Linked DNA regions of Homo sapiens. The protein of the gene in region 3 interacts with the protein of the main gene of each other region in a pairwise test. Each region holds a gene or a part of one and is shown on either strand. Other genes may lie near its edges. The genes, in order: KRTAP6-3, APTX, MAPKBP1, TRIM42, ZNF34 and KRTAP13-1.

The links.
Region 1: the proteins of MAPKBP1 (region 3) and KRTAP6-3 interact in a two-hybrid assay, tested with the Homo sapiens proteins (one large-scale study listed by BioGRID).
Region 2: the proteins of MAPKBP1 (region 3) and APTX interact in a two-hybrid assay, tested with the Homo sapiens proteins (one large-scale study listed by BioGRID and IntAct).
Region 4: the proteins of MAPKBP1 (region 3) and TRIM42 interact in binary tests that used the Homo sapiens proteins (3 or more experiments, as listed by UniProt).
Region 5: the proteins of MAPKBP1 (region 3) and ZNF34 interact in a two-hybrid assay, tested with the Homo sapiens proteins (one large-scale study listed by BioGRID).
Region 6: the proteins of MAPKBP1 (region 3) and KRTAP13-1 interact in a two-hybrid assay, tested with the Homo sapiens proteins (one large-scale study listed by BioGRID).

The regions. Positions count from the first base shown.
Region 1 is NC_000021.9:30,591,091-30,593,690, reverse strand, and holds KRTAP6-3 (keratin-associated protein 6-3), read right to left. Parts: upstream 1,252-2,600; 5' UTR 1,225-1,251; coding exon 913-1,224; 3' UTR 636-912; downstream 1-635.
Region 2 is NC_000009.12:32,991,420-32,995,266, reverse strand, and holds part of APTX (aprataxin), read left to right. Parts: intron 1-3,847. UniProt on the Homo sapiens protein: DNA-binding protein involved in single-strand DNA break repair, double-strand DNA break repair and base excision repair.
Region 3 is NC_000015.10:41,812,285-41,816,131, forward strand, and holds part of MAPKBP1 (mitogen-activated protein kinase-binding protein 1), read left to right. Parts: intron 1-231; coding exon 232-369; intron 370-634; coding exon 635-817; intron 818-1,045; coding exon of another isoform or gene 1,046-1,063; intron 1,064-1,336; coding exon 1,337-1,497; intron 1,498-2,265; coding exon 2,266-2,455; intron 2,456-2,974; coding exon 2,975-3,121; intron 3,122-3,339; coding exon 3,340-3,515; intron 3,516-3,847. UniProt on the Homo sapiens protein: Negative regulator of NOD2 function. It down-regulates NOD2-induced processes such as activation of NF-kappa-B signaling, IL8 secretion and antibacterial response. Involved in JNK signaling pathway.
Region 4 is NC_000003.12:140,684,271-140,688,117, forward strand, and holds part of TRIM42 (tripartite motif-containing protein 42), read left to right. Parts: intron 1-3,451; coding exon 3,452-3,847.
Region 5 is NC_000008.11:144,780,537-144,784,383, reverse strand, and holds part of ZNF34 (zinc finger protein 34), read left to right. Parts: exon of another isoform or gene 1-59; intron 60-2,510; exon of another isoform or gene 2,511-2,557; intron 2,558-3,418; exon of another isoform or gene 3,419-3,509; intron 3,510-3,847. UniProt on the Homo sapiens protein: May be involved in transcriptional regulation.
Region 6 is NC_000021.9:30,394,684-30,397,516, forward strand, and holds KRTAP13-1 (keratin-associated protein 13-1), read left to right. Parts: upstream 1-1,347; 5' UTR 1,348-1,403; coding exon 1,404-1,922; 3' UTR 1,923-2,139; downstream 2,140-2,833. UniProt on the Homo sapiens protein: In the hair cortex, hair keratin intermediate filaments are embedded in an interfilamentous matrix, consisting of hair keratin-associated proteins (KRTAP), which are essential for the formation of a rigid and resistant hair shaft through their extensive disulfide bond cross-linking with abundant cysteine residues of hair keratins.

The DNA.
Region 1 (2,600 bases), on a different chromosome or scaffold from region 3:
TCTGGAGATTTCTCAAAGAACTTAAAGCAGAACTACCATTTGACCCAGCAATCCCATTACTGGGTATATACCCAAAGAAAAAAAAATTGTTCTACCAAAAAGAAACATGCACTTGTCTGTTCATCGCTGTGCTATTCACAAGAGCAAAGACATGGAATCAACCCAGATGTCTAACAATAGTTGACAAAAGATAATGTGTTTCATGTGCACCATGGAATACTATGTAGCCACAACAAAGAGTGGAAATCATATTCTTTGCAGCACCATGGATGCAGCTGGAGGTGATTATCCTAAGCACATTAATGCAGGAACAGAAAATCAAATACCACAGGTTTTCACTTATAAGTAGGAGCTAAAAATTGAGTGCACATGTATATAAACATGAAAGCAATAGACACTGGGACTCTTGGAGTGGGGATGGTGGGGGGTGGTAAGGGTTGAAAAACTACCTTTCACATATTACCTCAGTGGCATGCAATTCACCCATGTAACAAATATACACATATAACCCTTGAACCTAAAATAAGAGTTGAAAAAAATAACGATAAAAGCAAAAAATCAAAGAAAAAAATTTTGGACAATAAATAAGATACAAACACCAAGATTTCTCTTGTGGATTAAATGTGTTTATTAGGTCAGCAGAGAAACAAACTACAGCATGAAAGTCATCAAAGGAGTCACTGTGACACCATCATCCTGATAAAAGGAGAAGTGACAGGTGAACTTCACCTTATCCCACTTCATGATGGAAACTCAGGGTATTTTTGGGTTAGATGGTAGATCAACAACAGATCATATTAGACTTCCACTGCAGGATATCATCAATCAAGGGAAAGGCTCAGAGCATGTGGGCTTCAGAATTGGTGAATTGCAATGTCACAGGATAGAGGGTGAGAGTCTCCCATGGTGTCCTCAATAGTAGTAGCCAAAGCTGGAGCCATAGCCAGAGCCGCACCTATAGCCACAGCCACAGAAGGAGTGGGAGACATAGCCATAGCCACAGCCATAGCCACAGTCCAGGCCTCTGTAGCCACAGCCACAGAAGGAGCCATAGCCACAGCCCAGGCCTCCATAGCCACAGTCCAGGCCTCCATAGCCAAAGCCCAGGCCTCCGTAGCCACAGCACCCATAGCCACAGCCGCCATAACCACAGCCCAGGCCTCCGTAGCCACAGCACCCATAGCCATGGCCACCATTGTAGTTTCTGTAGTAGCTGCCACACATGGTGTTGGTTGTTGAGGTCATCCTTGGGTAGGAAGGAGTGTAGGTGACTTCAGTATGGACACTTCTCCGCAGAGGGCCTTTTATATGCCTCAGTGAATCAGAACATAGCGTGCCCCTGCAAAAATATCTCTAAAGGCCTTTCATTGTGCTGAGAAGTTCTGGCCCTTACGTATCTCTCTGATTTCATATCCTGCTACTCTCCTCCATTTATCTATAATGCTCAAACTCTGCTGGCTTTTTGTCTTTTAAAATGCAGCAGGTTTCTTCTCACAATAAGGCCCTGGCCTCTGCACTTACTGATTTCTCTTTCTTAAAATAATACCAGGAATATTTGACTCATTTTCTATTTCAATTGAAATGTTCACTTCCCAGAGAGACTTTTAATGGCCACCTTATATTAATTAGTCTACCTCCAGTAACTGAACTTAATGTAACTCACTGAGTTTTATTATTCTCACAGGATTCTTCACTGTTAGAATCTATTTCATTCATTTTTAAAATCAGTCTCTCTATCCCTTCTGTCTCATTGTAACCTGCAGAAAGTAGAGACTTTGTCTATTTTGTTCATCTGCTCAATCTGCATTTCTTATAACGGTGCCTGATACAGCAGATTCTTAATAAAGATTTGATGAATTAGTGAAAAAATAACCAAATGAATGACATGATGCAACTTTCTATACTCAAATTCTGTGTAGAATAATCACAATCTTTGTTCTATGCTTGGGGTAACTGGGGATAAATTCATGTACTCTGGGATCCTTTTGGATCATATGCAAACCAGTGGAGGAATTTATCATGGTGATTTTTTTCTGGTTTGAGAATCCATGCCTTTTCCGATTGTTAAGGTGGTGGTATATATCCACTAAAGTTTATGAACTACTGTGTGCAGTTCCGAAATTCTGACTAAATGTTCTACTTGCCTCTTATTGATATGATACTTTGCCAGTCTCACATTGATCTACAAAGTATGATCCCTAGGTTGATCATTGGTAGTTCTGCTACATTTAAGAGTAGCAAATGAATTAATATGTACTATTATTTGTTTATATTTTATTCTAATTGCTTTATCATAATAAATGACTAATAATTCATTAATAATATTTAATAAGTGGATGGAATAAACGTGACAAATTATCACAGGGAGCTTCATAGAAAGTCAGCTCTCATAATTAAGGCTATCACCAGAATGCATTTGGGCCAGAAATGTGGTTTGCTGATGTTATTCTATCCAAGTCACCACTTTAAAAAATAGTAACAGGAATTCTGCTAGAAGATGAAAAGTATTTTTACAATACTTTTGGAAATTTGGAATTAATATATTTTAAAATAAGCAAATTCATTAAATATAAAAAGAAGGTAAAATATGTGAATATTAT
Region 2 (3,847 bases), on a different chromosome or scaffold from region 3:
CCTTTTCAGAAGGTTTTCAATTTACTTTTTCCAGGTCCATCAGAAGAATCACAGTTGATAGCAGCTATACCCTTATGAAATGTATTTCTTAATTAATAACACTTGAAAGTCAGAATTACTCCTTGATCCATGGGCTGCAGAATGGATGTTGTTTTATCAAGCACGAAAACAATATTTATCTCCCTGTATAATATATCTCCATCAGGGATCTTGGGTGCATTGTCAATGAGCAGTAATATTTTGAAAGGAATCTTTTTTTTATGAGCAGTAGTTCTTAACAGAGATCTTAAAATATTCAGTCAGTCATGCTGTCGTCCAGGCTTTGTTGTTCCATTTATAGAGCACAGGCAGAGTGGACTGAGTATAATTCTTAAGGGCCTTAGGATTTCTGAAATGGTAAATGAGCGTTGGCTTCAGTTTAAAGTCTCCATCTGCATTAGTCCCTAACAAGACAGCCTGTCCTTGAAGCTTTGAAGTCAGGCATTGACTTCTCTCTACCTGTGAAAGTCCTAGATGGCATTTTCTTCCAGTAGCATCAAAGATCAAAGATCACTGATCACAGATCATTGTAACAGATATAATAATAACGAAAAAGTTTGAAATATTGTGAGAATTACTAAAATGTGACACAGAGACCTGAAGTGAGCACATGCTGTTGGAAAAATGGCACTGAAAGACTTGCTTGACACAGATTTGCCACAAACTGTCAATTTGTAAAAAATGCAATATCTTTCAAATGTAATAGAGCAGAGCACAAAGCAGGTATGCCAGTATGTATGTGTTTCTTGGGGAAGAGAGGAGAGAGAGGGATGGGCAAGTGGGACTAGTTCTGTGAAGAGGAACGGGAGGTGAAATACATAAGCACTGTGGAGTTACAGTATGATGAGCTTAACTTCAGGCCTGAGGGACTTGAGATGGATCAGGGCAGGGCAAGTTTCCAGGACTGTGGTGGATATTATGGTAGCCCCCCAGCCACGTGGAGTTATTTAACTATTAAGTAAAAAATGTAGTTTCTCTGTTGTACTAGCTACATTTTAGATGCTCGATTGTCACGTGGTGGGTAATTTATTGGACAGTTCAGGTTTAGAACATTTCCGTCATTGCAGAAAATTCTATTGGACAGCACTATTTGAGGTTACCTGATTTCTGGCCTTGTGTGGTCTATCAGATCACTTGAGTTCTTTAAGGAATAATCAGAATTTCTTTCTGACGGATCCCCTCAACTCTAGAATGAAAGATATAGAGCTGGGCCGGGCGCGGTGGCTCACGCCTGTAATCCCAGCACTTTGGGAGGCCGAGGTGGGCGGATCGCCTGACATCAGGAGTTCGAGACCAGCCTGGCCAACATGGTGAAACCCCGTCTCTATTAAAAATACAAAAAGTAGTCAGGTGTGGTAATGCACCCCTGTAATCCCAGCTGCTCAGGAGGCTGAGGCAGGAGAATTGCTTGAACCCATGAGGTGGAGTTTGCAGTGAGCTGAGATTGCGCCACTGCATTCCAGCCTGGGCAACAGCAAAACTCTGTCTCAAAAAAAAAAAAAAAAAAAGATATAGAGGTGAAAAATAGAGAATTGGGATTTATCCACCTAGATGTGAGAATGGATGGGATTGCCCAAAGAGAGGAACAGAGCATTCCATCGTAAGAAGAGCCATAGAAGGAAGGGAGAGAGAAGGCAGGAAAGAAAACTGGGATAATTATTACTCTCATGCAGAGAGTAAATAGCATTTGATAATTCACTTGTAAATATTTATTGTATGCCCGCTGTATGCCAAGTGTTAGATTAGGTGCTACAGATATATTGATAAGCGAAAATGGACATGACCTCTATTGTCATAGTTTTCAGTTTATGGAGTTTTACTGGAGGGACTGGGTTGAAGATTCAGGAACACCCATCCTTCTGCACTTGCCATATTGTAAAACACTCCATTTCTAAAAGTTGGAATTGGAGGCTGAAACGGGTGAAGTTACTATTTAAGGTTGGTTACATAACTGTTGTGCAGTCACTACTTCAGCTTCTCAGGAAGTAGTAAAAAGGAACACCATAACTTGAGAACTTTGGGGGAATAAAGTATCTGTATTGATGGAGGGCAGAAAGGGTAGTTCTTATTATCCTGCATCTGCCAGCCATGCTCTCTGCTGCTCACTGGATTCCTCTCTTGCCCTGCTCTCAAAATCTGTTCTCTTCTGGCTTCTCTTATTGTCAGTATGAGTAGTCAGTCACCACATATTTCCCAATGCCTAGTGAAGACATATTTCACTTCTCAGTCTGTTACCTGCTCATTCATCTGTTTCCAGCAAGTGCAAACAGATGCCCCTTGGAACGCATAGCATTTAAAAGTGGGACCTGCCCATAACACCATCATCATTTGAGGCTCCAGGTTTAGGATTTTAGATTTATAGCTGACTCTTCGTGCACCTGCATCAGCTCCTTCACAGAGACTTGCTGAACTGCCTTTTTGACCTCTCTGGCTCACGTTATATTAACAGCCTCCTCACTAATCTCTGACTCTGGATTTCTCCATGCTAGACTGCCTACACACAGCTGTTAAGTGTTCTTTGGATGCTGTTGTTTTATCTTACTGTGAAGCTCAAAACCTGGCAGTTGTCTCCTCTTGATTATGGTAAATGTAAACTTTTCAGCCTAGTATTCTTTCAACACCTCTGTCTTTTTTTGTGACTCTCCGAGGCAGCTCCTCTGGTTCAGCCAACTAAGTCTGCTTTTACCCCGACCTATGGCTTGCCATTGCCGAAATCTGTGTTGTCACTTGTGCTTTTTAAAATGGAATGGCCCCTCCCACTCCATTTCTTCTTTATCAGTCCCCTTGGCTCCTAGCCATCTCTAACCAGGAGGTTTCTGGAAGCCTGTACTGGCTAATACAGGACTTTTTACCTCCTTAGTACTCATATACTCGCACTAATCTTATTCATTTGAATTTGCATCTCCTCAGCTGTCATTTGCTCACTTTGCCTTGCATTGTCTTGTCTTTGCAGATGGTAATGAAACTGATTTTTAAAAATCGGGTTTCTTTTTTCTTTGCTTATGGACATGAAACTTGTGCAGAGGGCATATGTGCTGCCTTGACTATAGGCAGGTTTCCGGGAGAGGCATGTTAGAGGCTTGAGCACTGATAAGAGTCTGGAGTCTAGAGAGGCAATCTCTCTCTGCCCATAATTCCCTGTTTCACCTCATTGGGTGATCTCATCCTCTCTCTCTTTGCCTCAGCCTCTGTGACATGTTGATGCCTCTCAAATATATGCATTTAGTCCATTCCCCTCTCTTGAGCTTCATACCCACATATCACAGCTTGAGTCTTGGATCTTCCACAGGCAACTTAAAATAATTACATTTCAATATGAAATTGGTCCTTCTCTCTTCACTTTCCTTTTTATCCCCAAATTATGTCTCCTTGTGTATTTTTCATTTTTGTTAATGGGCATCTTCCAAATTTGAAGTCTTTGGTGAGTGTCTCGCCTTTTTTTTTTTTTCTTGAGATGGAGCCTTGCCCTATCGCCCAGGCTGGAATACAATGGTGCGATCTCTGCTCACTGCAACCTCCGCCTCCTGGGTTCAAGCAATTTTCCTGCCTCAGCCTCCCGAGTAGGTGGGAGGCACCTGCCACCACACCTGGCTAATTTTTGTATTTTTAGTAGAGATAGGGTTTTACCACGTTGGCTAGGCTGGTCACAAACTCCTGACCTCGTGATCCGCCTGCCTTGGGCTCCCAAAGTGCTGGGATTACAGGCCTGAGACACCGCACCTGGCCAGTGTGTCCTTTTATTCCTTTGTCATTCCCCAAATGTCATCAGTAATTAAGTATGTCTTCCAGATTTCTCCTGGCTCTTCTT
Region 3 (3,847 bases):
GCATGTTGGTTGAAGGGGCTAGCTTTATGCCTTCAAAGACTTCTGCAGGAAACGAATCTTTTCAGCTCCTCTAGAAAGGGATTATTTCCCTACCCCTCTTTTTCTGGCCAGTAAATTCTGGAAAGAAACACTTTGTCAAGTACAAATTCTAATTCTCCTCCATTCTCTGAGTCACTGTCTTCTTAGCTCCAAGAGACAGAGCCTTGATTCTTCCTTTGGCATCCCCTCCAGAAAAACATTGTGGTGGCCTCCAACAAGGTGTCCAGTCGGGTGACAGCAGTGTCCTTCTCTGAGGATTGCAGCTACTTTGTCACTGCAGGCAACCGACACATCAAATTCTGGTATCTCGATGACAGCAAGACCTCAAAGGTGAGGTGCTGAAGCTGGGAGTAGCCACCAAGGCCCCTGGCAGGGCCTGCCCAGCCCAACCCAGGAGACTCTGCCCCACTTGGGCCTCTCTCTGCATTCCCAGCAGTCATGCAGAAGTTTTGGATGAGCCAGATGCTGTCTGGGCTGAGGAGTAGGCCCAAAGAGCAAGGAGGTGCTGGAGGCGTCCCCTGTACTCTCCTAGGGCCCAGTTTCCAGGGGCAGGCTCTGGGGTGGATGGGGGTGTAACAGTGGTGTGCCTCCACAGGTGAATGCCACTGTGCCCTTGCTGGGCCGCTCAGGGCTGCTGGGAGAGCTACGGAACAACCTATTCACTGATGTGGCCTGTGGCAGAGGAAAAAAGGCGGACAGTACCTTCTGCATCACGTCCTCAGGGCTGCTGTGCGAGTTCAGTGATCGAAGGCTTTTGGACAAGTGGGTGGAGCTGAGGGTAAGTACCTCCGTCCCCAGGGGTAGGGTCTGCTCATGTCTCAGCTCAGGGGAGAACTAGTGCCCAGGGCTTCAGACTAGGGGCTGGTCCCTTGTGCATACGGGAGATCCCAGGAGAACGAAGCTTGGGGGAGCTAGAGCTTGGCCCATTTCCAGCCCTTGGTGATCTGTATAACTGCCTCCTCTCTGCTCTTTCTGTCTCTTTCCCCTGCTTTCCTCTTCCGCTCAGAACATAGACAGCTTCACAGTAAGTGGTGCCTGCACCTTCCTCTCTTTCTCATGCTATTTCTTTCTCTTCACTGGGCTTTTCCTACTGGATCCTCTGGTGCCTAGAAGAATCCTCGGTTCCTAATCCCTGGCTGGACAGGGCTGAGGGGCTCAGAACAGGGCAGCTGGGCGGCTTTTCCCTTGCCCCTGCCTTGGCCGGTCCCTCCTCTTGGCAGGTGGCTGTTGATGGGTGGGGAGGAGAGAAGACTGAGTGGGCAGGTGGCCTTGCTGAGCTGAGCCACTCTGCCCACAGACCACAGTGGCCCACTGCATCTCTGTGAGCCAAGACTACATCTTCTGTGGCTGTGCTGATGGCACCGTGCGCCTTTTCAACCCCTCTAACCTGCACTTCCTTAGCACCTTGCCCCGACCCCATGCTCTGGGGACAGACATTGCTAGCGTCACCGAGGCCAGGTGAGCTATGTGGGCCCCCCTTCCTCCATTTGTAGCCTTACCCCTGCCCAGTCTTTCTTGTCAGTGCCTCAGGGAGCAGGTGAAGAGTGTATTGATGCCCCAAAGATTATTGGGAACACCTCTTTAGACAGAAGAATTTGGGTTTATTGGTACTTGTTGCAACCAAGGAGACCCCACCCCATGGAGAACTGTGGAGAGTCTCAGTAAGTGGGTGTTAGGAGGGACATATGGGATTTGGGTTTGCGTTGGGTGATTTTAGGAATCGTTCAAGGGATTGAAGTATTCTGGTTGGATGCTGTCCGGAACTAGGGGCAATTCTACAGTGGAACATCTTGTTAATTTATCTAAGAGGTGAAGGAAAGGTATGGGGCTAAAGCTGTATTTGGTCAAGAAGCCGCCAGCAGTCATGTAGATGGGAAAGGCGGTGTTTGGTCATTGTCATGGTTCGTTGTGGTTTGTATGGTGATCTTGTTTTTATCTGTGCACAGAGTAGTCTTGTTTTTGTTTTGCCCCATCACAGCCATAGAAGTACCTTGTCTAACGTTGGTGTTCTGTGAAGCTGTGTTCATCCGAACACCATGGCCCAGCAGCTAGTGCTGGGTCAGGTTCCTGCTGATGGCTAGTAGGGGCTCCTTTCTTCTCTCAAGCAACTACTTCCAAACCTGCAGGTCCAGGGAGGGCTCCTCACACACTGCTCCTTCCATTGTGGATTGGCTTCTCTTTTCATTCCCTTCAGTCTGACCAGTGTGCCCTGTCCTCTCCCTACAGTCGCCTCTTCTCTGGAGTGGCGAATGCCAGGTATCCAGACACCATTGCCTTGACCTTTGATCCTACTAATCAGTGGCTGTCTTGTGTGTACAACGATCATAGCATTTATGTTTGGGATGTGAGGGACCCCAAGAAAGTGGGCAAGGTGTACTCGGCTCTGTATCATTCTTCCTGCGTCTGGAGTGTGGAGGTATGTGGGCTGGCTGGCTGGCTGGAGACTGGCCAGGTTGGCTGGGATACCATTTTGAGGACAGAAAATAGGGATCCCCAAGTATAATCTTAGATTCCTGCTGCCTCCCTGTTTCTCCAGTGACTTCCCTGGGATAGATCCTGGGGACTGAGTTTGAATGTTACAGGCTTCCCCAGTGTGCCCCATCCTTAGTTTTGCCTCGGTCATCTTGGACAAGTTATTGAATTTGACCAAGCCTCAGTTTCCTCACCTGTAAAATGGTGTACTTGATTCACCTAATTGTTCTAAGAATAAAATGAAATAATGTAAGTGGGAGACATAGAAGAGTGCCTGATATATAGTGGGTGCTTCCCCTTGGTCATGTTGAAGGGTATATACCAGTTATGTATGGCCTGTGACAGGCACTGGGCTAAGTCCTGGCCACCATTCCCTTTTTCGTCCCATTCCCTTCCATCTCCTTGGGTAGGCAGAGGACTGCTCCCGAATGGAGGTCTGATTGTGTTCCCTCGGCCTCTTCAGGTCTACCCCGAGGTGAAGGATAGTAACCAGGCCTGCCTGCCCCCCAGTTCCTTTATTACCTGCTCCTCAGACAACACCATCCGCCTGTGGAACACAGAGAGCTCCGGGGTGCATGGCTCCACCCTCCACCGAAACATCCTCAGCAGTGTGAGCCCTGAGGCTGTGGGGCCCCGCTTCACCCTCAGTGCCCCCATCCCCACAGCTATTGCACCTTGTTACTGGGAACTGGTCCCTAGGCCTTGGCCTTCCAGCCTTCATTTGGCTGTGCTCTGTGGTCCAAGGGTTTGTTTTGCTCAGCTTTCTTGCCCCTTGCAGCTGTACTGGTCAGGCCTGCCTCATCCACCTTTTCTAACCTGTTCCACTAGGACCTCATTAAAATCATCTATGTGGATGGGAACACCCAGGCCCTGCTGGACACAGAGCTGCCTGGAGGAGACAAAGCTGATGCATCCCTGTTGGATCCCCGCGTGGGCATCCGCTCGGTGTGTGTCAGCCCCAATGGACAGCATCTAGCATCAGGGGACCGTATGGGCACACTTAGGTAATGCCAGGCCCTGGGTGGGTACTGACTGCCTCTCATGGTGCAGAGTTGGGTATTTAGAACTTTAGGGAGGGTTTGGCTCAAAAAGATTGGGCAACAAGATACTTATTTACAAGGCAAAGATAATAACTTCACAATGAGTAAACCTAGCAGAAATCATCTTCACCAAGTGATCAAGGTTAACATCCTCATATCAACATCATTAAGCCCATGATAGGATGTACTAAGAAGGATGTGACAATGTTTCTGTGGTATTCTTACCAAAAATGCATAAACTCAATATAGGCGTGAGAAAACATCCGACAAACTCACATTGAGGTACATACCACAGA
Region 4 (3,847 bases), on a different chromosome or scaffold from region 3:
ATTCCACAATATTCATTTGACAATCTACTTTGTGCTAAGCAGTGACCAGAATCTGAAGATGAAGAGATTGAAGGGGAGGGAAGGGGAACCACCACTACCATCCATGGTCTGTTTCCTTAAGGAGTGGCCTACAGTCAGTTACCAAAGTGCACCAGATCAACCCAGGCCTTTCTCTTTGTCAGATCTGTTAGTCTCCATCATTCAGATAGGCCTACACATTTGGGAGGGAGGCAGCTTTTCCTTGACCTGCACAGAAAGGTCCCATTGGATGTAAAGGTGGGTCAGAAACAGGCTTTGCTAATGACCACATCACCCCGGACCTCTCAGTAGCTTCAGGAATACCTTAATTTTTCTCAATGGCCACATACCTGGAAACCTTGCTTGTCAATTGACATTTATTTAATTTTGGAACCACCACCAGGGAAGACTTCATATTAAAGGAACCCTGCAGGAACCACATTACCAAGAAAATGGTAGAACTGTTGGTTCCAAAAGGGTTTTCTGAAGGTGGGACTCACTGCCTCCCTAGGCCAGGGCTTGGCTGGATTCTTTGGGTCCTCAGCATGGTGAAGGCACTGCCGCCTACAACCTACTGTGCCTTCCATCCCTCTGTAGAGAACCTCGTCCTTAATACAGGAGAAACTTAGGATAGTTTTCTGAGTCCAGGGCACCTAAAATTTGAGCAGACAACAAAGCTCAATTCAAGGTGGGGGGAAAATGCCTGTCCAAATTCCAGGAAACCCAGCAGTTGGAAAGGGAAAAAGGGATAATTGGTAAATTAGATATTAGCTGTAAGTAAAGAATTTAACCTTTCATCCTTGCTGAAGAAACAGACACACAAAAATTTTTTAACCAGGGTTCAAACTTGTTCGTGAGCATTTGATTCACTTTTCTGGGAGGTACCATAAATTGGCATTCTAAACAGATCTCCAGGTTATTCAAAAGCAAGTGATCTGGGAATACACATTGAGAAACTGGGGGACCTAGGGAGAAGATCCATTCTAGAAGCTTTACTAAAAACTGATGCCCCTGTCCCATCCACATAGAGGTGCAGGCTCAGCAAGATGGAATTTTAAAAAACTCCTCATGTGATTCTATGGTGCAGCCAAGGTCGAGAACCACTGAAATAAAGGGAGCTCAAAAGTTTAGGTCCCTGCCACTCAAAGTATGGTTCAAGGACCAGTAGCATTGGCATCACCTGAGAGCTTGTTAGAAATGCAGAATCTCAGGACCCACCCCAGGCCTAGTGCATCAGAATCTGCATCTTTATCATGATCCCAGGAGATTCTCTGGGTTCGATTCTAAACCTCACTGAAAACTGCCTCACCTGGCTTCCTGAGCCCCAACACAGGCCCATTGATTCAGAATCTTAGCAGATGAGTCCAAGAGAAGAGTTTTTTTTTAACACTCTCTCAGGTTATTCTGGTACTCAGAGAGGGCTGAGAGCCACAGCTGAAGCAATTAAGAACCTAGTTTGGAGCTAGACAAATAGAATTAGGGACAGAGCCTAGTTTCTCCCATTTACCTGATGTGTAACACTATACAGTCACTTAACTTCCCAGGGCCTCAAGCTTTTTCATCTATAAGTGGAAACAATATCTTCATTGTAAGAAGATATATGTGATAGATAAAAACATATGGATCTGGTCCATAAAAAGTGTTTAATAAATAACAACTAGTTTTAAGTGTATTGCCTAAAAGAGACCTTGATTTGACTTTGCTTTAAAATCAGCTCTTGCAGAGGTTTCATATTTGCAGAGGTTTGGGGTGGGACATTTGTGGCTTCCTCTGTCTTTTTTCTCCTCCTGGAGATGCCTTTTTCCTCTCATCTAAGAAATTTTTATCCTGCTTCTCAGGACTTTGCTCTACATAAGCCTAATCAATCCCTAATACAGCAAGAAATTTCCTATCCAAGTATCTTTAACAGTAGGTAACTATTGAATAGTCAAAGAAAATAATGCGCAAAGTAGAATTCTGGCTGCCACAGTCACAGTGCATTGGGGAAGGCAAGAAGCACTTCTCAGCACTGAAATCGGACCCTGGTAGTTTCCCTTTCAGTCTCACCTGCATCACCTCATCTTTTCTGAGCCAGTGTGAGGAAGGAGGTGGCAAGAAAACACTGGGGCTTCAGGGAGTTAGCCAGAGAGTGACACTGCTGGCATTCACCAATGAGTTGTTAGAAGACAGGAAAGAATGGCTTTTACTCAACAAATACATTTGCTCACCTCTACACACCATAGTCATAGTGGTAATGTGGTCCCTGTTCTCATGATCTGACAGAACACTAGGGTTTCCCATATTCAAGTGCACACCCTTGTTACAACGACCACCACTCACAGAAGTCCAGCTTCCTATGAACCCAGGATAATGTTATGAACCAAGTGCAAAAATAGCTAGTCATCCCCACTCCTGAGTAAAATTTGGTAAGGATTATTGCCCATCAATTCACTGAAGAGTTTACCTTTCATGAGAAGAACCTTACCCGTAGCATAGACCACAGAAGGGTGACATTCTTCAAATTGCTCCTTAATGCCTCAAATCCTTTAAAGCTAACAAAGGTATTCATTTCACCTTTCATATAAAGCTCATTTCACAGATAGAGATGTGCCACGTGCTTACCCTGCCATAGCATCCTTAAACTGTAGTATCTTTGGATTTATTCATACCTTGAGCACAGATGCCCTCTCATAATCATATCCATATTCTTAGTGCCTAAAAGATACATGGCATGTAACAGGGCTCCAGTAAATGTTTGTTGAATGACTGAGTGAACTTAAAATCCAAATGCCATATGAGGGGACACAGGGTAAACTGGTTTTCCTTGAAGTGTGACAGCAGACTCTTTTTTGAAAGGAGTGGGGGAAAGGCAAGGAGAAGTGACATAGCTGAACCACAAGAGGGACAAAGGGGGGAAAAGGGCATCTAAGAGAGCCACCTCAATGAAGGGAAGCTTTGCTGATTTCCCACTGTTGTATAGGGCTGGAGGCTTAGCGAATGATGCAAGACAACCTTTAGAAGTAGTCGGCAGAAACTTAGTTCTTCCTCTTACCACTGCAAAAGCTTAGGTTTCCTACAGGGAAAAGCAGGCACCAGTCATTTTGTGACTTCACCTCTTCTCAAGTCCAACTTGCAGACAACTGAAATCTGGTAAAAACCAATATCAAGGGTGGGCTTGAACTTCCAGTCTCAGACTCAAGGCCATAGGGATTACTGTTACAAGATAGAAATATCCCAGAGAAGGATCAGAGGGGGAAGAAGGGGAAGGGTGTACTAAGGAGGACCAAATTCATTTCATAAACCTATTCCAGCCTGTTTCAGCCCAACTACAAGTGCCTTCCCTCCCTCTTCATTCACCTCCTTGGAGCCTAGGGTAATTTGTTCTAGTTTGCTACTGACTTTGACACCTGGGGAGATGAAAATTTTAAAAGTAACTAACTTGGCATTTTTGCAGTCCGATATGAAATTGATAATGACCTAATGGAATTCAACATCTTAAAAAACAGCTTTAAAGCTGACAAGGAGGCAAAGCGAAAAGAGATCAGAAATGGCTTTCTCAAGTTGCGCAGCATTCTTCAGGAGAAAGAGAAGATCATCATGGAGCAGATAGAGAATCTAGAAGTGTCCAGGCAGAAGGAAATTGAAAAATATGTGTATGTTACAACCATGAAAGTGAACGAGATGGATGGTCTGATCGCCTACTCCAAGGAAGCCCTGAAGGAGACTGGCCAGGTGGCATTCCTGCAGTCAGCCAAGATCCTGGTGGACCAGATCGAGGACGGCATCCAGACCACCTACAGGCCTGACCCACAGCTCCGGCTGCACTCAATAAACTACGTGCCCTTGGACT
Region 5 (3,847 bases), on a different chromosome or scaffold from region 3:
GGAAAACCAGTTGTGCCAATACCATTTATTGTCCTTCTTCATTGCCATTAATATTGCAGGTATATTAACATATCCATAGATGTCTTCCATTATCTTTTTTCCTATACTTAAACTTCACTTTCCATTACCATAGCCTAAGTCTTGATATCTAGTAGGGCACACCCTTGCCTCCTTTGGTTGTTTTTTTGGTATTGCCTTAGCTAATCTTTTTTTTTTTTTTTCTGGAGACGTAGTCTCGCTCTGTCACCCACGATGGAGTGCAGTGGTGTGATCTCGGCTCACTGTAACCTCCGCCTCCCGGGTTCGCGCCATTCTCCTGCCTCAGCCTCCCGAGTAGCTGGGACTACAGGCGCCTGCCACCATGGCCGGGCTAATTTTATATTGTTAGTAGAGATGGGGTTTCACCATGTTAGCCAGGATGGTCTCGATCTGACCTCGTGATCCTCCCGCCTTGGCCTCCCAAAGTGCTGGGATTATAGGCGTGAGCCACTGCGCCTGGCCACACTGCCTTGGCTAATCTTAGATCGTTACTATTTCATGTGATATTTGGAGTCATTTTGGTCAGATATCATGTCCTGTTGAAATGTTTATTATAATTGCACAAAATAAATTTAACTTGGGGATAATTGATATCTTTATGTTATTGAGCCCTCCTATTTAGAAACATTGTCTGTTTCTCCATAGACCTTTCTAAGGTACTTCAATAAAGTTTTATAATGTTGTTCATTACATACATATCTTTTTTTAAGACTTAATGTACTGTATAGTTTTTGTAGCTATTGTGAATGGTCAGTTTTCGGTTGCTGATTGCTGACAAATAGAAGTGGTATTAATTATTCTCTGTTGACCTTGTATATGGCAATGCTGTGGAACTCCTGTCATTCCAACAGTGGATTGATAACTCTTGGATTTTCTATGTAGATTATTTTTATCATTCTCAAAGAATGATGATTTTGTCTTTTTTCTTCTGATCCTTGTAGCTTATATTTCTTTTTTCTGTAACTTACTGCTTTGGCTAGGATGTTGAATAGCAGCAGGGTGAGGGAACGTCCCTCTCTTGTCACTGAATCTACTACAAGTGCTTCTAATGTGTCCTCTTAGTGTTGCGAACACAAACTTGAATGCATGGAACCCCAGGGTCCCTGAGCCACACTCTGAGAACTACTGCTATGCTTCCCAGGGTCAAGTGATCCTCCCACCTCAGCCTCCCAAGTAGCTGGGACTACAGGCATGTGCCACCAATCCGTGCTAATTTTTTTTATTTTTTGTAGAGACAGGCTGAGCTTGAACTCCTGGGTTCAAGCCATCTTCCCGCCTTGGCCTCCCAAAGTATGGGGATTACAGGCATGAGCCAACCACACCTGGCCTTTTGCTCTTTTTTTTTAATCTATTTAAAATGGTTTTATTTTAACCTGGGAGCATAGATTCAAATTGCCCTAAATATACACTCTTTCCTTTTTTGTTCCTGATAACATTTCCTTTTCTACTTTTCCATCTATTTTCTTTTCTTTTTTTTTTTTTTTTTTTTTTTTTTTTTTTTTGAGATAGGCTTTGGTTCTGTCTCTGTCACCCCAGCTGGAGTGCAGTGGTACGATCTTGATTCACTGCAGCTTCTGCCTCCTGGGCTCAAGCGATCCTCCCACCTCAGCCTCCCAAGTAGCTGGGACTACAGGCACATGCCACCATGCCTGGCTAATTTTTGTATTTTTTGTAGAGAGGGGTTTTGCCATGTTGCACAGGCTGGTCTTGAACTCCTGGGCTCAAGAGATCCACCTGCCCTGGCCTCCCAAAGTGCTGGGATTACAGCCGTGAGCCACCGTGCCCGGCCCTCCTTGAGTTACTTTCTTATTCTGTATCTGATTTCTTTTCTTTTGTTTTTTGTTTTTTGTTTTTGGACAGAGTCTCACTCTGTCGCCCAGACTGGAATGTGCAGTGATGTAATCTCAACTCACTGCAACCTCCACCTCCCGAATTCAAGTGATCCTCCTGCCCCAGTCTCCCAAGTTACTGGGATTACAGGTTCACGCCACCATGCCCGGCTAAGTTTTGTTTTGTTTTGTTTTGTGTCGGAGTCTCACTCTGTGGCCAGGCTGGAGTGCAGTGGTGCGATCTCGGCTCACTGTAACCTCTGCCTCCCAGTTTCCAGTGATTCTCCTGCCTCAGCCTCCCGAGTAGCTGGGATTACAGGTGCCCACCACCATGCCCAGCTAATTTTTATATTTTTAGTAGAGACGGGGTTTCACCAAGTTGGCCAGGATGGTCTTGATCTCTTGACCTCGTGATCCACCCGCCTCAGCCTCCCAAAGTGCTGGGATTACAGGCGTGAGCCACTGCGCCCAGCCCCAAGTTGTGTATTTTTTAGGAGAGATGGGGTTTCACCATGTTGGCCAGGCTGGTCTCGAACTCCTGACCTCAAGTGATCCACCCGCCTCGGCCTCCCAAAGTGCTGGGATTATAGACGTGAGCCACAGCCTGCATTTGATTTCTTGCTGAATACTTATTTATTTCAGGCTTTCCTGTTAAAATGAGTCTATTAAGGATGCACAATTTTCTTTAGGTAGGCTTGGTTCTATTTCCACTTTAGTTTCCATTTCTATATGTCTCTGGGGAGAGGGTTACTTTTCATATATTTCTAATATAACAACAATATGGATAGAAATTGTTTTGCCAAATGATATATTCTTTTGGGATTTGTTGAAACTTTCTCTGTTGCTTTGTTTTTTTTGGTAATGTTCAGTATGTTGAAAACAATGTGTGTTCTCTATGTTTTAAGCATGAGATTGTTTACTTGACCCACTTGTTTCTGAGGGAAGTATGTTAAAAATCTCGACTGGTCATGGTGGCTCCTGCCTGTAATCCCAGCACTTTGGGAGGCCAAGGCGGGCAGATCACAAGGTCAGGAGATCAAGACCATCCTGGCCAGCACGGTGAAACTCCGTCTCTACTAAAAATACAAAAAAAATTAAACGCACCTGTGGTCCCAGCTACTTGGGAGGCTGAGGCAGGAGAATGGCGTGAACCCGGGAGGCAGAGCTTGCAGTGAGCCAAGATCGCGCCACTGTACTCTAGCCTGGGCGACAGAGTAAGACTCCGTCTAAAAAAAAAAAAACTCACTCCAGAGGAGGATTTACCAGTTCCTGTTTGGTAGATCCATACTGTTTGTAATTATTACAGCTTTTTGGTGGGCTTTTAGTAATATGCAGTGTTTTATTTTTATTTTTATTTATTTATTTATTTATTTATTTATTTGAGATGGAGTCTCGCTCTGTCGCCCAGGCTGGAGTGCAGTGGTGCGATCTCAGCTCACTGCAAGCTCTGCCTCCCGGTTCACACCATTCTCCTGCCTCAGCCTCCCAAGTAGCTGGGACTATAGGCCCCCGCCACCACGCCCGGCTAATTTTTTTTGTATTTTCGGTAGAGACAGGGTTTCACCGTCAGCCAGGATGGTCTCGATCTCCTGACCTCGCCATCCACCCGCCTCAGCCACCCGAAGTGTTGGGATTTCAGGGGTGAGCAACCACGCCTGGCCAGTAATATGCAGTGTTTTTTTTATTCCTATTAGTGATTTTCGCTTTCTTTGCTTTTCTTTTTTTGGAGATGAAGTCTTGCTCTTGTCCCCCAGGCTGGAGTGCGATGGCGCGATCTCGGCTCACTACAACCTCCGCCTCCCGGGTTCAAGCGATTCTCCTGCCTCAGCCTCCTGAGTAGCTGGGATTACAGGAGCCCGCCACCACGCCCGGCTAATTTTTGTATTTTAGTAGAGACAGGGTTTCACCACATGGTGGCCAGGCTGGTCTCGAACTCCTGACCTCAGGTGATCCACCCGCCTCAGCCTCCCAAAGTGCTG
Region 6 (2,833 bases), on a different chromosome or scaffold from region 3:
TTGAAGCACTGCTGAAATGAAATGACAGAGGGTGTTACAGCTGTGGCGTTGCTCACAACAAATGGCAATGTTAAAAAAAAAAAACTTTTCTGTGTCATAAAAAATAATTCAAGTATTTTTGATGTACTATTTCTAAAAGAAACACCAAGTTTTACTTCCATTTGTTCTACAGAAAATCATGTGGACAAAACCATTGTCATGTGTAGAGATGATCAAAGACCGACTATGCAACCAAAAAATGTAGAAAAAGATTATAGATGAGGATGATGATAAAGGTATATTATTGTCTTGATTTTGTGACATCTTGGGTTTTGTTAACTATGGAAGTTTTTATTCTAAGTTAATATCCATGTTTATATCTATTATTATATTCCTAATATTGTGTTTTTAATGAGGATCTCCAAATTATACTTTTCAACACCACAAAACCTAAATCCACCTCTTTAAAGAGGGCTGGGACAGAGTCACGAAAAACATAGAAGCTGGTGTTACCCCGCAAATGCTCAGAAGGCAGTCAACATTTTGAGGTGGGGGTTTAGAGGTGTTGTAGACAGGTAGGCTCCAGAACACTTACAAATATGAATGCATCATACAAAAGTCATCAAATAAGTTTATTTGAAAGCATTTTGATTTGCTTTTAGGATGGAGTCCTGAGCATCCTTCTGCTATTGTGACTACTCTGACTTGTTTCCTACCTCATCTCAGCAGTGTCTTCTACTTTCCTTTTTTTCACATGGGTCCTTATTGTTGTATTTGTATTTATTTATTTTTTGCTTTTGTTTTGATTTCTTTTTTCTAAATACTAATTTTTTAAAAAAATTTGTTCAAGATGATATCTATGTCTAGTTATCTCTCAATTCCTTTGGCTTACTTTTATATAGGCCCTCGAGACTGGACTTACAAGCACTGATTATAGTAAATAACAGATGGCAAACTATTTTGGAGAGTGTGAACAATAAGATTTCTGCCTCTAGGCCACTGACAAAAAAAGATGAATACATTGCTATCCCCACCCAAGACAGAAAGAATTTCCCAGCCAAAACAGGAGCAGATGTATAAATCATGGGCAGAGAAAATAAGAGGGGTTTTCCTGGACATAATGGAGTAGGGACTAATCACATACTGTCATAGCATTTGTAACATAAATGCATTTCATTGACGCAGAGCTGTAAAAACAAAAGGAGTTCTTCCATAAATATAAGATGAAGGGTGTTAGTTAACTGCAATGACAAAGAAGATTACTAAGTTGCTTATATGAAATGTGGGAGCTTAAATGTGTGAAGGATGACCCTGTAAGGTGCCACACCCACGGCTGAACGTATATAAATGGTCCTGTCCAGATGTGGCATGCAAACTCAGAATCTTCTCAGTGTAACTCAGCTGAACTCACATCTCCCATCAACATGTCCTACAACTGCTGCTCTGGAAACTTCTCCTCCCGCTCCTGTGGTGGCTACCTGCACTACCCAGCCTCCTCCTGTGGCTTTTCCTACCCCAGCAACCAGGTCTACAGCACTGACCTCTGCTCTCCCAGCACGTGCCAGCTGGGTTCCTCTCTCTATAGGGGCTGTCAGCAGACCTGCTGGGAGCCCACCAGCTGCCAGACATCCTATGTGGAGTCCAGCCCCTGCCAGACCTCCTGCTACCGTCCCAGAACCTCCTTGCTCTGCAGTCCCTGCCAGACAACTTACTCTGGGTCTCTAGGCTTTGGATCCAGCAGCTGCCGCTCCCTGGGCTATGGATCGAGGAGCTGCTACTCAGTGGGCTGTGGGTCCAGTGGCTTCAGATCCCTGGGTTATGGAGGCTGTGGCTTCCCTTCCCTGGGCTATGGCGTTGGATTCTGCCGCCCAACCTACTTGGCTTCTAGGAGCTGCCAGTCTTCTTGCTACAGACCAACTTGTGGATCAGGCTTCTACTATTGATCATCTTGTTAAATTGCTGATTTTGTTGGCTAATGCCTTCAATGCCTCTACTCATAACCTTTATTGTCTTCATCATGTACAGAAAGAATTAGCCTCTTATTCTATAATTATCAAGTTCTCAGTTTGTCTTTGTCCCCAAATACTGGCTGGCAGGCTTCATCTGAAAAACTGTAATTGGAGAACTAGCTCAAAATAAATCTTGAAATACACATTAAAAGTAGAATTTATATTATTCGATTTTCTTCCACAATTGTATAAAAAGTCAAATCATTTTAATCCAATAAATCCATTGGTCTCATATTCAGCTATGTTTGTGGTGGTTTTATATTGCTAGGGTTTTGGTTGTGATGTATTAGGCAATTATTATGAAACAATTGGTGTATATATATAGGAATAGGTTTCAAAATCATATGAAGTTTGCGATTCAGACAAACTTTTGGGGGCCTCAGAGATTTTTGTTATTCAAACTACAGGTAGTGGAAGTCTACTAAATTTACAGACTTTTATTCATTAAAATATCAGAATCAGGAATTAGCTTGATCCCCTTATAAAATGTGGATTCTTGTGTCTATGCCAACAAGCATAAGGTAGCAAACTAGTTGATAGTTATATCAGGAATCTGCAGAGAAAAAAATACTATTTAGAACAATATGGTTATAGATATACATAAAAGAAAAATGGAATTGAAGAGAAACAAAAGTGATTTGAAGTAACTTTTGAAGTCACCCAATATTTGTTGGTAATCATGATCAAATGCCTGCATCTCATTGATGAGAATTCAATATGATTCAGTTATCTACATATGTGTAATAAGGGATACCATGAAACTTGAATGGAGGATTGATATTCCACCTTGGTTTGTATTCATGTTTCACACTAAGTAAAGCTGAAGATAATAACCTTTTGATATC